Linked DNA regions of Homo sapiens. The protein of the gene in region 1 interacts with the protein of each later gene in a pairwise test. Each region holds a gene or a part of one and is shown in the gene's direction. Other genes may lie near its edges.

Region 1 (3,653 bases):
TGCTGAAAACTCGGCTTCCAGCGATGATCTCTTGGTGGCAGAGGTGGGGATCTCAGGTATGGACAAGTCCAGGACGGCTGGGGGGGCAGAGAGGGAGGAAGCTAGAAATCGTTTCCCTACTTGGAACAGGAATACCCAGCATCTTTCCTTCTGAGCCACTCTCAAGGAGTGTAAGTAAACAGGTTCATGGTCTCTAAAGGAATCTGCTGCCCACAGTAGGCTTAACCTGAGCAGATTTTGGGACCATGGAATCTAAGCTCAGCTGTACAGGTGCCTGAAGGGAAGGGAACCCCTCTTCCTTCACATTCCACCCCTCTCTGACATTAAACTGTGAGAACTTTGAGCTCTCCTTGCAGGGAACACTGGGCAGAGGGGGTGCTATGTCCCCTAGGGGACAGCATAGTCAGTTCTTCTGTCTTCATTTCAGTTTATGTACCAAAACTGTTAGGTTTTGGTGTTAGCTCAAATGCACTGATGCCACCACTAATCCAAGGGCACCTCCCAACCACAGCGACAGCTTTAATAGTCACCAGCATTTAGTGGCTGACAGGGTAAAGATCTGCACCCCCATTGCATTTTAAATCTTCACTTGAACTCTGCCTGAGAAGCAAGATGTATTATCTCCATGTTATACTTCAGGAAAAAAAAAACTGAAGCTCAAAGATTAAAGGACTGTGGGTGATAGAGTGGCTCATCCAGAGCTCCACCTAAGTGTTTAGTCCCAGGCAGGGGCTTACTTATTTCACTTCCCTCCCAGCTTGGATGCCTCCATTCCGTAGTAAGCTGGGAACTTAGTAGAGCGTCTGGTCCTGGGTAGAGATAGCTGGCACACCTCTCCAGGACAGTCAGTCAGATTTGACTCAACTTCAGGTAACTCCCTTGGTGCTTTTATTAGAATAATAATAATAGTTAACATTTATCAGATGTTTACTGCGTGCCAGGCCGCTGTGCTGAGTGTTTTACATGTGTTTCATCTTTGCAAGAGCTCTGTGAAGGAAGTCCCATGTGGTACTATTACCTCCATTTTTTCAAATGAAGAAATGGATGCTTAGAGTAACTTGCTCAAGATTGTGGAATTGTTAAGTGGCAGAACTAGGTTTGGAACCCTAGGCATCCAGTACTACCACTACTAGTAGTTGGTCTTAGCCGTTTCTCGGCAAAGTGTAAGAAACCAGTTGTCACAGCATCAGTCCTTGGGGCTGCTACTGCTCGTTAGGAAGGATGTTGCAGATACTAACAGCAGCTACCACATATTAAGCATATAACCCTGCCAAGTATCACGCACATATTCCCTCATCCGGTCCTCCCAACAGCCCCCATGTGGCAGGGACTGTGTTCCTTCCCTACCACATGCTCCCCTTTCTCACCCAGCTCCAGCCAGACTGGTCTTTGTAATCCTGAAATTTCCTGAGCTTAGCCCTGCCTCAGAGCTTTTGCACTTGCAGTCCTTTCTGCCTGAGACACTCTTCCCAAATCTTCACGTAGCTTGCTCCAGGACATTCAGGTCCTTTAGCTGATGTCACCTTCACAGGGAGGCCTGCCTTGACCACCTGAAGTGGGCTTTCTTACCCACTTTGTCACATCGCGCTGTTTTGTTTTCCCTGTGGCATTCATCACCTGTGTTTATGTGTTTGTTATGTCTCTTCTCTCCCTTAGAAGAATATGAGCTTAATAGTCTTTTTTTTTTTTTTTTTTTTTTTTTTGAGACAAAGTCTCACTCTGTTGCCCAAGCTGGAGTGCGGTGGTGGGATCTCGGATCACTGCAACCTCCACCTCCTGGGTTCAAGCGATTCTTCTGCCTCAGCCTCTTGAGTAGCTGGGACTACAGGCACGCGCCACCATGCCCTGCTAATTTTTTTGTTATTTTTAGCAGAGACAGCGGTTTCACTATGTTGGCCAGGCTGGTCTTGAACTCCTGACCTCGTGATCTGTCCGCCTCGGCCTCCCAAAGTGCTGGGATTACAGGCATGAGCCACCGCACCCGTCCGAGCTTAATACTCTTAATCACAAGTAGACCCCCAGCACCTAGAACAGCATCTGACACATAGTGGGCATATAATAAATATTCAGAAGAATCTCCATTTTTTCAGATGAAGAACAGTTCAGAGAGTTTAAATGATTTGCCTAGTGCTGCATGGCTAGGAAGTGGCAGAGGAGGAATTCAAACACAGGTCTGTATGGTTGCTCCTCACTTTGAACCATTACACGGCCAAGAAAATTCTTCTTTCCCTCAGTTCAGCTAGGTCCCATAGCAATTTTCTGCCCTGAGTTCCTTATGGTCTTGCTTTTTGTGTCTGGTTTCTGCTCACAGATTATGGTGACAAGCTGAACATGGAGCTGAGTGAGAAATACAAGCTGGACAAAGAGAGCTACCCAGTCTTCTACCTCTTCCGGGATGGGGACTTTGAGAACCCAGTCCCATACACTGGGGCAGTTAAGGTTGGAGCCATCCAGCGCTGGCTGAAGGGGCAAGGGGTCTACCTAGGTATGCCTGGTTGCCTGCCTGTATACGACGCCCTGGCCGGGGAGTTCATCAGGGCCTCTGGTGTGGAGGCCCGCCAGGCCCTCTTGAAGCAGGGGCAAGATAACCTCTCAAGTGTGAAGGAGACTCAGAAGAAGTGGGCCGAGCAATACCTGAAGATCATGGGGAAGATCTTAGACCAAGGGGAGGACTTCCCAGCATCAGAGATGACACGGATCGCCAGGCTGATTGAGAAGAACAAGATGAGTGACGGGAAGAAGGAGGAGCTCCAGAAGAGCTTAAACATCCTGACTGCCTTCCAGAAGAAGGGGGCCGAGAAAGAGGAGCTGTAAAAAGGCTGTCTGTGATTTTCCAGGGTTTGGTGGGGGTAGGGAGGGGAGAGTTAACCTGCTGGCTGTGAGTCCCTTGTGGAATATAAGGGGGTAGTGGGAAAAGTGGTACTAACCCACGATTCTGAGCCCTGAGTATGCCTGGACATTGATGCTAACATGACCATGCTTGGGATGTCTCTAGCTGGTCTGGGGATAGCTGGAGCACTTACTCAGGTGGCTGGTGAAATGACACCTCAGAAGGAATGAGTGCTATAGAGAGGAGAGAGGAGTGTACTGCCCAGGTCTTTGACAGATGTAATTCTCATTCAATTAAAGTTTCAGTGTTTTGGTTAAGTGGACCTGAAGCCATTCTTTTTTCTTTTCAAATTATACTTTCGTCTATGACCTGCTTTCCTCTTTGAATCTAAGCTGGTATAGACTCCACTTTCCCAGGGTAACAAACTATCCTCATAACACTGTGGAAACTGGCATACCTTTGTTATTTTCCAGTGATATTCAGACTGACATGGATTGACTGTCAATGGTAAAGTTTGTCTATTTTCCAGTCCTTAAAACTCAATAGCAGTATTGATGAATATATTGAACCAACATTGATGGACCATGGTGTAATTATTTTCCATGCTTTGTGAGGTACACATAGCAAATTCTTAGTTTTACTGATATATTCTGTGACTTGGATTTACACAGCTAAATGATATAGTCCGATTTCAAAATTAAAAAATATTTTCCATCTAAATCACTATCACTAAATAAATACTAACTTCTAGAAAGCAGAATAAAGAGCACTTGTGCCAACATTCACATCTTTTCTTCAGACTCAGAAGCAGTTATCTGCAAAA
Region 2 (3,280 bases), on another chromosome or scaffold:
AAAAAGAAGAAAGGAGCCAGAGGAGAGAAGCTGGTTAGCATTGAATGGAGCAATCTGTGTCATCGTACTTGGGAAACCCAAGGATGGATTCTTGGCAAGTCGACTCTTGGAGCTTTCCCTGTGCTTGGTCCTGTGCTCAGACATGGGAAAATTAGAGGAGTGTCATCTGTGCAATCACTGAATTCATAATCTTGGTGAGGAAAGGAGACTACACACAGGGAATAATGCTAAGTATTACAGATTTCAGGGCAGAAAGAGATCAAGGTGGGCTGCAATATTCAGAAAAGTCTTCCTGGAAAAGTTGAATACTTAGAAAGCAGCTCCTAGAAGTAGACTCTGCTGAGATGGACGGAGTCCTTTGTAGGTCCCAACTGGGTGTGTGTGTGGGGTCTGTCTCTCCATGGCTGACAGTGCACATGTGGATTCCAGGGCTCAGGATGCTGTTGCTGGGAGCTGTTCTACTGCTATTAGCTCTGCCCGGTCATGACCAGGAAACCACGACTCAAGGGCCCGGAGTCCTGCTTCCCCTGCCCAAGGGGGCCTGCACAGGTTGGATGGCGGGCATCCCAGGGCATCCGGGCCATAATGGGGCCCCAGGCCGTGATGGCAGAGATGGCACCCCTGGTGAGAAGGGTGAGAAAGGAGATCCAGGTAAGAATGTTTCTGGCCTCTTTCATCACAGACCTCCTACACTGATATAAACTATATGAAGGCATTCATTATTAACTAAGGCCTAGACACAGGGAGAAAGCAAAGCTTTTTTATGTTAACCATAAGCAACCTGAAGTGATTTGGGGTTGGTCTTCCAAGGATGAGTGTAGATGGTGCCTCTATAACCAAGACTTTGGCTTTGCTGCATCTGCAGCTCCTTTTCCATCCCCTTTCCCATCTTCACCCTCATCCCTATTCCCAGTACATTCATATTCTGATTCCTCTTTCTGTCTGCTTAACTTCCATTTCACCCAGTGGCATTCAACCACATTTACTGCACACCCCCTGAAAGGCTCAGTCCTGCCTTTGGGGAACTCTTGATCTAGGTAAGATGTCTAATGTGCAAGGCTCTGTTGGTGGTTACTACAAGAAAGTCTACTCTAAAAATGTCAAACTGAATGTGAACAAGTATTCAAAGTATGGAGCATAGAGAAAATATACTCACCGTGGACCTGATGAAGAATGAAGGCTTCAAGGAGGAGGCAGAGCTTCAGCTAGGCCTTGAATGATGGGTAGGCAGAATAGAGGAGGAGAGACATCCTAGATGGAGGGGGTAGAATTGCAAAACCAGGGTTGATGGTGCCAGCACATAAAGGGCTGGCAGGGTGGAGGGTCTATGATAGAGACCTATAGGAGATAAAGATAGAGTTGAAATTATGGGAGCCTCCATGTCTGTGGGAGATATAGAAGGAGGAGGTAACACCTCTCTCCTTTTGGGAGCTCTTATTGGTTTCTTGATCTATAAGTCAAGAAGGTTGTGAGTGGGAGCCACAGGGATGGTAATTTAGGCTGTAACCAACCTAGGCAGGAGTTCTGTTCTTTGTAGTCACTGAGGTCTTCTCATTCCTTAGGTCTTATTGGTCCTAAGGGAGACATCGGTGAAACCGGAGTACCCGGGGCTGAAGGTCCCCGAGGCTTTCCGGGAATCCAAGGCAGGAAAGGAGAACCTGGAGAAGGTGCCTATGTATACCGCTCAGCATTCAGTGTGGGATTGGAGACTTACGTTACTATCCCCAACATGCCCATTCGCTTTACCAAGATCTTCTACAATCAGCAAAACCACTATGATGGCTCCACTGGTAAATTCCACTGCAACATTCCTGGGCTGTACTACTTTGCCTACCACATCACAGTCTATATGAAGGATGTGAAGGTCAGCCTCTTCAAGAAGGACAAGGCTATGCTCTTCACCTATGATCAGTACCAGGAAAATAATGTGGACCAGGCCTCCGGCTCTGTGCTCCTGCATCTGGAGGTGGGCGACCAAGTCTGGCTCCAGGTGTATGGGGAAGGAGAGCGTAATGGACTCTATGCTGATAATGACAATGACTCCACCTTCACAGGCTTTCTTCTCTACCATGACACCAACTGATCACCACTAACTCAGAGCCTCCTCCAGGCCAAACAGCCCCAAAGTCAATTAAAGGCTTTCAGTACGGTTAGGAAGTTGATTATTATTTAGTTGGAGGCCTTTAGATATTATTCATTCATTTACTCATTCATTTATTCATTCATTCATCGAGTAACTTTAAAAAAATCATATGCTATGTTCCCAGTCCTGGGGAGCTTCACAAACATGACCAGATAACTGACTAGAAAGAAGTAGTTGACAGTGCTATTTTGTGCCCACTGTCTCTCCTGATGCTCATATCAATCCTATAAGGCACAGGGAACAAGCATTCTCCTGTTTTTACAGATTGTATCCTGAGGCTGAGAGAGTTAAGTGAATGTCTAAGGTCACACAGTATTAAGTGACAGTGCTAGAAATCAAACCCAGAGCTGTGGACTTTGTTCACTAGACTGTGCCCTTTTATAGAGGTACATGTTCTCTTTGGAGTGTTGGTAGGTGTCTGTTTCCCACCTCACCTGAGAGCCATTGAATTTGCCTTCCTCATGAATTAAAACCTCCCCCAAGCAGAGCTTCCTCAGAGAAAGTGGTTCTATGATGACGTCCTGTCTTGGAAGGACTACTACTCAATGGCCCCTGCACTACTCTACTTCCTCTTACCTATGTCCCTTCTCATGCCTTTCCCTCCAACGGGGAAAGCCAACTCCATCTCTAAGTGCCGAACTCATCCCTGTTCCTCAAGGCCACCTGGCCAGGAGCTTCTCTGATGTGATATCCACTTTTTTTTTTTTTGAGATGGAGTCTCACTCTGTCACCCAGGCTGGAGTACAGTGACACGACCTCGGCTCACTGCAGCCTCCTTCTCCTGGGTCCAAGCAATTATTGTGCCTCAGCCTCCCGAGTAGCTGAGACTTCAGGTGCATTCCACCACACATGGCTAATTTTTGTATTTTTAGTAGAAATGGGGTTTCGTCATGTTGGCCAGGCTGGTCTCGAACTCCTGGCCTAGGTGATCCACCCGCCTCGACCTCCCAAAGTGCTGGGATTACAGGCATGAGCCACCATGCCCAGTCGATATCTCACTTTTTATTTTGCCATGGATGAGAGTCCTGGGTGTGAGGAACACCTCCCACCAGGCTAGAGGCAACTGCCCAGGAAGGACTGTGCTTCCGTCACCTCTAAATCCCTTGCAGATCCTTGATAAATGCCTCATGAAGACCA
Region 3 (3,653 bases), on another chromosome or scaffold:
TGCAAGGAAGACAATGTTGCTGTTCCTATTATGTTCAGTCTGTATTACCCTGTTCAAAAGATGAAAAATTCAGCTGTGAAAAAGCAATATGGCTATATCCTCTTGTAACCTCTACAGAGTTATATGAAATTCCCGTCATCGGAGTGACCCTGCCCATCATGTGGTTCTACCTCCTCATGAACATCATCACTCAGTATCCTTTGGACTGTGCCGTCACCCTTATGTCATCATCAGGTTCTTTTGGCACAGGAATGGTCATTCTTTTCTTCTAACAGTGTGTTGACTTGAATATGATTTTCGCTGGATTTATTCTGCGGTAAGCTGGAGACAGAGACCAATTCAGGGAACTCCTTGTAGAGGGCAGAAGAGATGCTAGTGGTGTAGTAGGTCAGTAAGGCACAGGGCAGCAGGAGGAAGTGCTCTGAGTGGAAGTGTAGGAGTCCATTGATTGATAGTGGCGGGTGTGGTGGCTCACGCCTGTAATCCCAGCACTTTAGGAGGCCGAGGCGGGCAGATCACTTGAGGTCAGGAGTTTGAGACCAGCCTGGCCAACATGGTGAAACCCCCTCTCTACAAAAATACAAAAGTAAGCCAGGCATGATGATGGGTGCCTATAATCCCAGCTACTCCATAGGCTGAGGCAGGAGAATCGCTTGAACCCAAGAGGTGGAGGTTGCAGTGAGCTGAGATCATGCCATTGCACTCCAGCCTGGACAACAGAGTGAGACTCCATCTCAAAAAACAAACAAAGAACTACTGTATAGCATAAATCATCTGTGATTTGTACCTGTGATTTTTTGGTGTCCTAAGATATTTCCAGTGATCACAAGCTGCTGCAAAGTCCTGAAAGAAATTTCAAATTACCAGCTACTTAGGAGGCTGAGGTGGGAGGATCGCTCAAGCCCAGGAGATCGAGGCTGCAGTGAGCTTGATCACTCCACTGCACTCTAGCTTGAGTAACAGAACAAGACCCTGTCTCAAAAAAAAAAAGAAATTTCAAAGTAATCAAGTTTTCGTTTTTTAAAATGGTTATTTCGAATGACCTTACTTTCATTATAAAAATAATTATGTCTTTGAAATAGTGAAACGAATCGAGATTGACCTCATTCCTCTGAAGTCAGCTCCTAGATTTGCCAGAGTCCCTTTCTGGAGGAGGGGATAGAAGGGCTGGAGGCAAGATAAATAAAGGTGAATGGGATCACCCTTACCGAGAGCGTCACCCTCTGTCATTATCTTGGAGGTGCCTGTCATTGTAACCATAGGAAGACTCCAACATAAGAATAATTGGGGGTTTTTTGGCGGTTTCAAATTGGTACCCATAAATGGAATGGCAGGACAGGAGTTGTTCTGCAGGTTCTCCCCAGGAGGAGCCTCAGAGCTGCCGTAGCGGACCTTCATGTTTTCTTAGAATATGAGAAGTTAAACCAGGGACCATGCCAGAAGGTTCTCTCACTGATCCCCCAAGTACAGTCTACAGAAAACTACCTTGACTCCACTCCTCCAGGTACGTGTGCATCCGGGGTGTGTTTATCCTCACCACAGAATGCGCCTCCCTCACCGTCACGCTCGTCGTGACCCTACGCAAATTTGTGAGCCTCATCTTTTCCATCTTGTACTTCCAGAACCCCTTCACCCTGTGGCACTGGCTGGGCACCTTGTTTGTCTTCATTGGGACCTTAATGTACACAGAGGTGTGGAACAACCTAGGGACCACAAAAAGTGAGCCTCAGAAGGACAGCAAGAAGAACTGAGGCCTGTCTGGAGTACGTAGACCAGTGTCGTCGTGAGGGTGGGACCCTGTGAAGGTCTGACCACCGTTTCGCTTTTGTTAATGCCGAGCTACCCGCAGTGCTGAGCCAGCCGTGCAAAAGGAAATCTTCAGGAGGGGACTTCTCACGTTGCTCAGACTGACACATGTAGACTAAATAGAAACCCCTCAGCCCTAAAATAGAAAAAAGAACAGTTCTGGACTATTGAACAGCCCATTCATTTATTTCTGTTTTGTTTACCGACATATTCAGTATTATTCTTGTTTTCTGAATTCTGAGTCTCCTGAACAAAAGGCTTACTATCCATGGTCTTGGAAAAGATTGTCCCTTCTCTTGCTGTTGTAATGCATCTCTGCTACAGCAGTCATTGTCATCCTGTGACCTTATCCCTTTTGTCTCCCATCACCTTTTCCTTCTTCAGCAGCACCTCACAGTCAGTCAGACGCTGCAGGCACCACTATCACCAGGAGTGGCCAAGTAAACCGAGACACCAGTAACAGCAGGGCTGGACTTCCTCCAGCGTTTTGGGAAGGAAAGAGATGTTCCCCTGAGCTGATTCCCAGTGACAGTGCAGCAAGACTAGTGGGACTCCTCTTTCCCACATTTTGCTTTTTTTTTTTTCTATGCAAAAGTCAGATGCTTCTATCCATTGCTTTCTGTGATTAGGGCGGCCCTGCAGCATATCTCACAGCAGACACAGTGTTCATAACAAAGAAAGGTTGTGCCGGGCACGGTGGCTCACACCTGTAATCCCAGCCCTTTGGGAGGCTGAGGTGGGTGTATCACTTGAGGTCAGGAGTTCAAGACCAATCTGGCCAACATGGTGAAACCCCATCTCTACTAAAAATACGAAAATTAGCTGGGTGTGATGGCGCATGCCTGTAATCCCAGCTACTTGGGAGGCTGAGGCAGGAGAATCACTTGAACCCGGGAGATGAAGGTTGCAGTGAGCTGAGGTCGTGCTACTGCACTCCCGCCTGGGTGACAGAGTGAGACTCTATCTCAAAAAAAAAAAAAAAAAAGAAAGGTTGTTATGGACTGGACACCCCTGAAGCCCATTGCCTAGGCCACAGTGGTGACGGCAGGATGGCCCTGCTCAGCACCGCAAGAGCCATGGCTGTCCCTGTTGGCCCAGCCGGGCACTCACAGGGCAGAAGGGTGGGTCTCAAGTGGGAGGATAAGGCTTCACCACCAGGAGATTCCCCTCTGCCCGATGACTCTGTTAAGAGTCACGACCCATCAAGGGAATGCATAGATGGAGATATATAGTGTGTGATGTGTAAATCAGGTCAAACCTCAACGACAATTGAAAGTTGTTATTGTCCTATGAGGTATCTTAGCATTCTCGATGGGTATTGAGGATGGTTGGATGTGCTTTATTGTGTGTGGAAACATGCCTCTCTTTGCTAATCATTTCAGAGGTCCAGTTTTCCTTTCACTGGACAATCTTGAATAGGAGGAACGCTGTTGCTGTAATATGCGTAGCTTCTGTGTGCTCTTGTGTAGTCTGTGTGTGATCAAAGGGCACGGAAGTGGCTGCACTTTCACATCCCTTTTCTTTACTTAGCTGGAACCTTACATACCAGTACATGCTCCTCTGTAAGCAGCTGAACTCACCGGCCACTTCTCTGTTTGCCTATAGACAAAGACTGTGTGTGTGTGTGTGTATGTATGTGTGTGTGTGTGGTGCACACATTGTGTTCTTAAACTGAGACGTGGCTCTGCAGGTCTCCTGGGCTCATTCCATGGTGTGGTATGTTTATTCCACTGTCCAGAGCTATTCTCTGATGGATTTGAGCAACAGCAGTGGAGATAAATGTCCTAGAGTCACCAGGTCGCTTGGAGAAGTCATTTAAGCTGCCTCGGGTTTTTGTTACTTAAAAT

Evidence for each region.
Region 2: the proteins of ERP29 (region 1) and ADIPOQ interact in binary tests that used the Homo sapiens proteins (3 or more experiments, as listed by UniProt).
Region 3: the proteins of ERP29 (region 1) and SLC35B4 interact in binary tests that used the Homo sapiens proteins (3 or more experiments, as listed by UniProt).

What each region holds. Positions count from the first base shown.
Region 1 is NC_000012.12:112,019,839-112,023,491, forward strand, and holds the end of ERP29 (endoplasmic reticulum resident protein 29 isoform 1 precursor), read left to right. Parts: coding exon 1-56; exon of another isoform or gene 57-77; intron 78-737; exon of another isoform or gene 738-2,311; coding exon 2,312-2,814; 3' UTR 2,815-3,611; downstream 3,612-3,653. UniProt on the Homo sapiens protein: Does not seem to be a disulfide isomerase. Plays an important role in the processing of secretory proteins within the endoplasmic reticulum (ER), possibly by participating in the folding of proteins in the ER.
Region 2 is NC_000003.12:186,852,622-186,855,901, forward strand, and holds part of ADIPOQ (adiponectin precursor), read left to right. Parts: exon of another isoform or gene 1-429; 5' UTR 430-437; coding exon 438-651; intron 652-1,156; exon of another isoform or gene 1,157-1,251; intron 1,252-1,511; exon of another isoform or gene 1,512-1,562; coding exon 1,563-2,083; 3' UTR 2,084-3,280. UniProt on the Homo sapiens protein: Important adipokine involved in the control of fat metabolism and insulin sensitivity, with direct anti-diabetic, anti-atherogenic and anti-inflammatory activities.
Region 3 is NC_000007.14:134,292,931-134,296,583, reverse strand, and holds part of SLC35B4 (nucleotide sugar transporter SLC35B4), read left to right. Parts: intron 1-117; coding exon 118-193; coding exon of another isoform or gene 194-272; exon of another isoform or gene 273-1,504; coding exon 1,505-1,751; 3' UTR 1,752-3,653. UniProt on the Homo sapiens protein: Antiporter that transports nucleotide sugars across the endoplasmic reticulum (ER) membrane in exchange for another nucleotide sugar.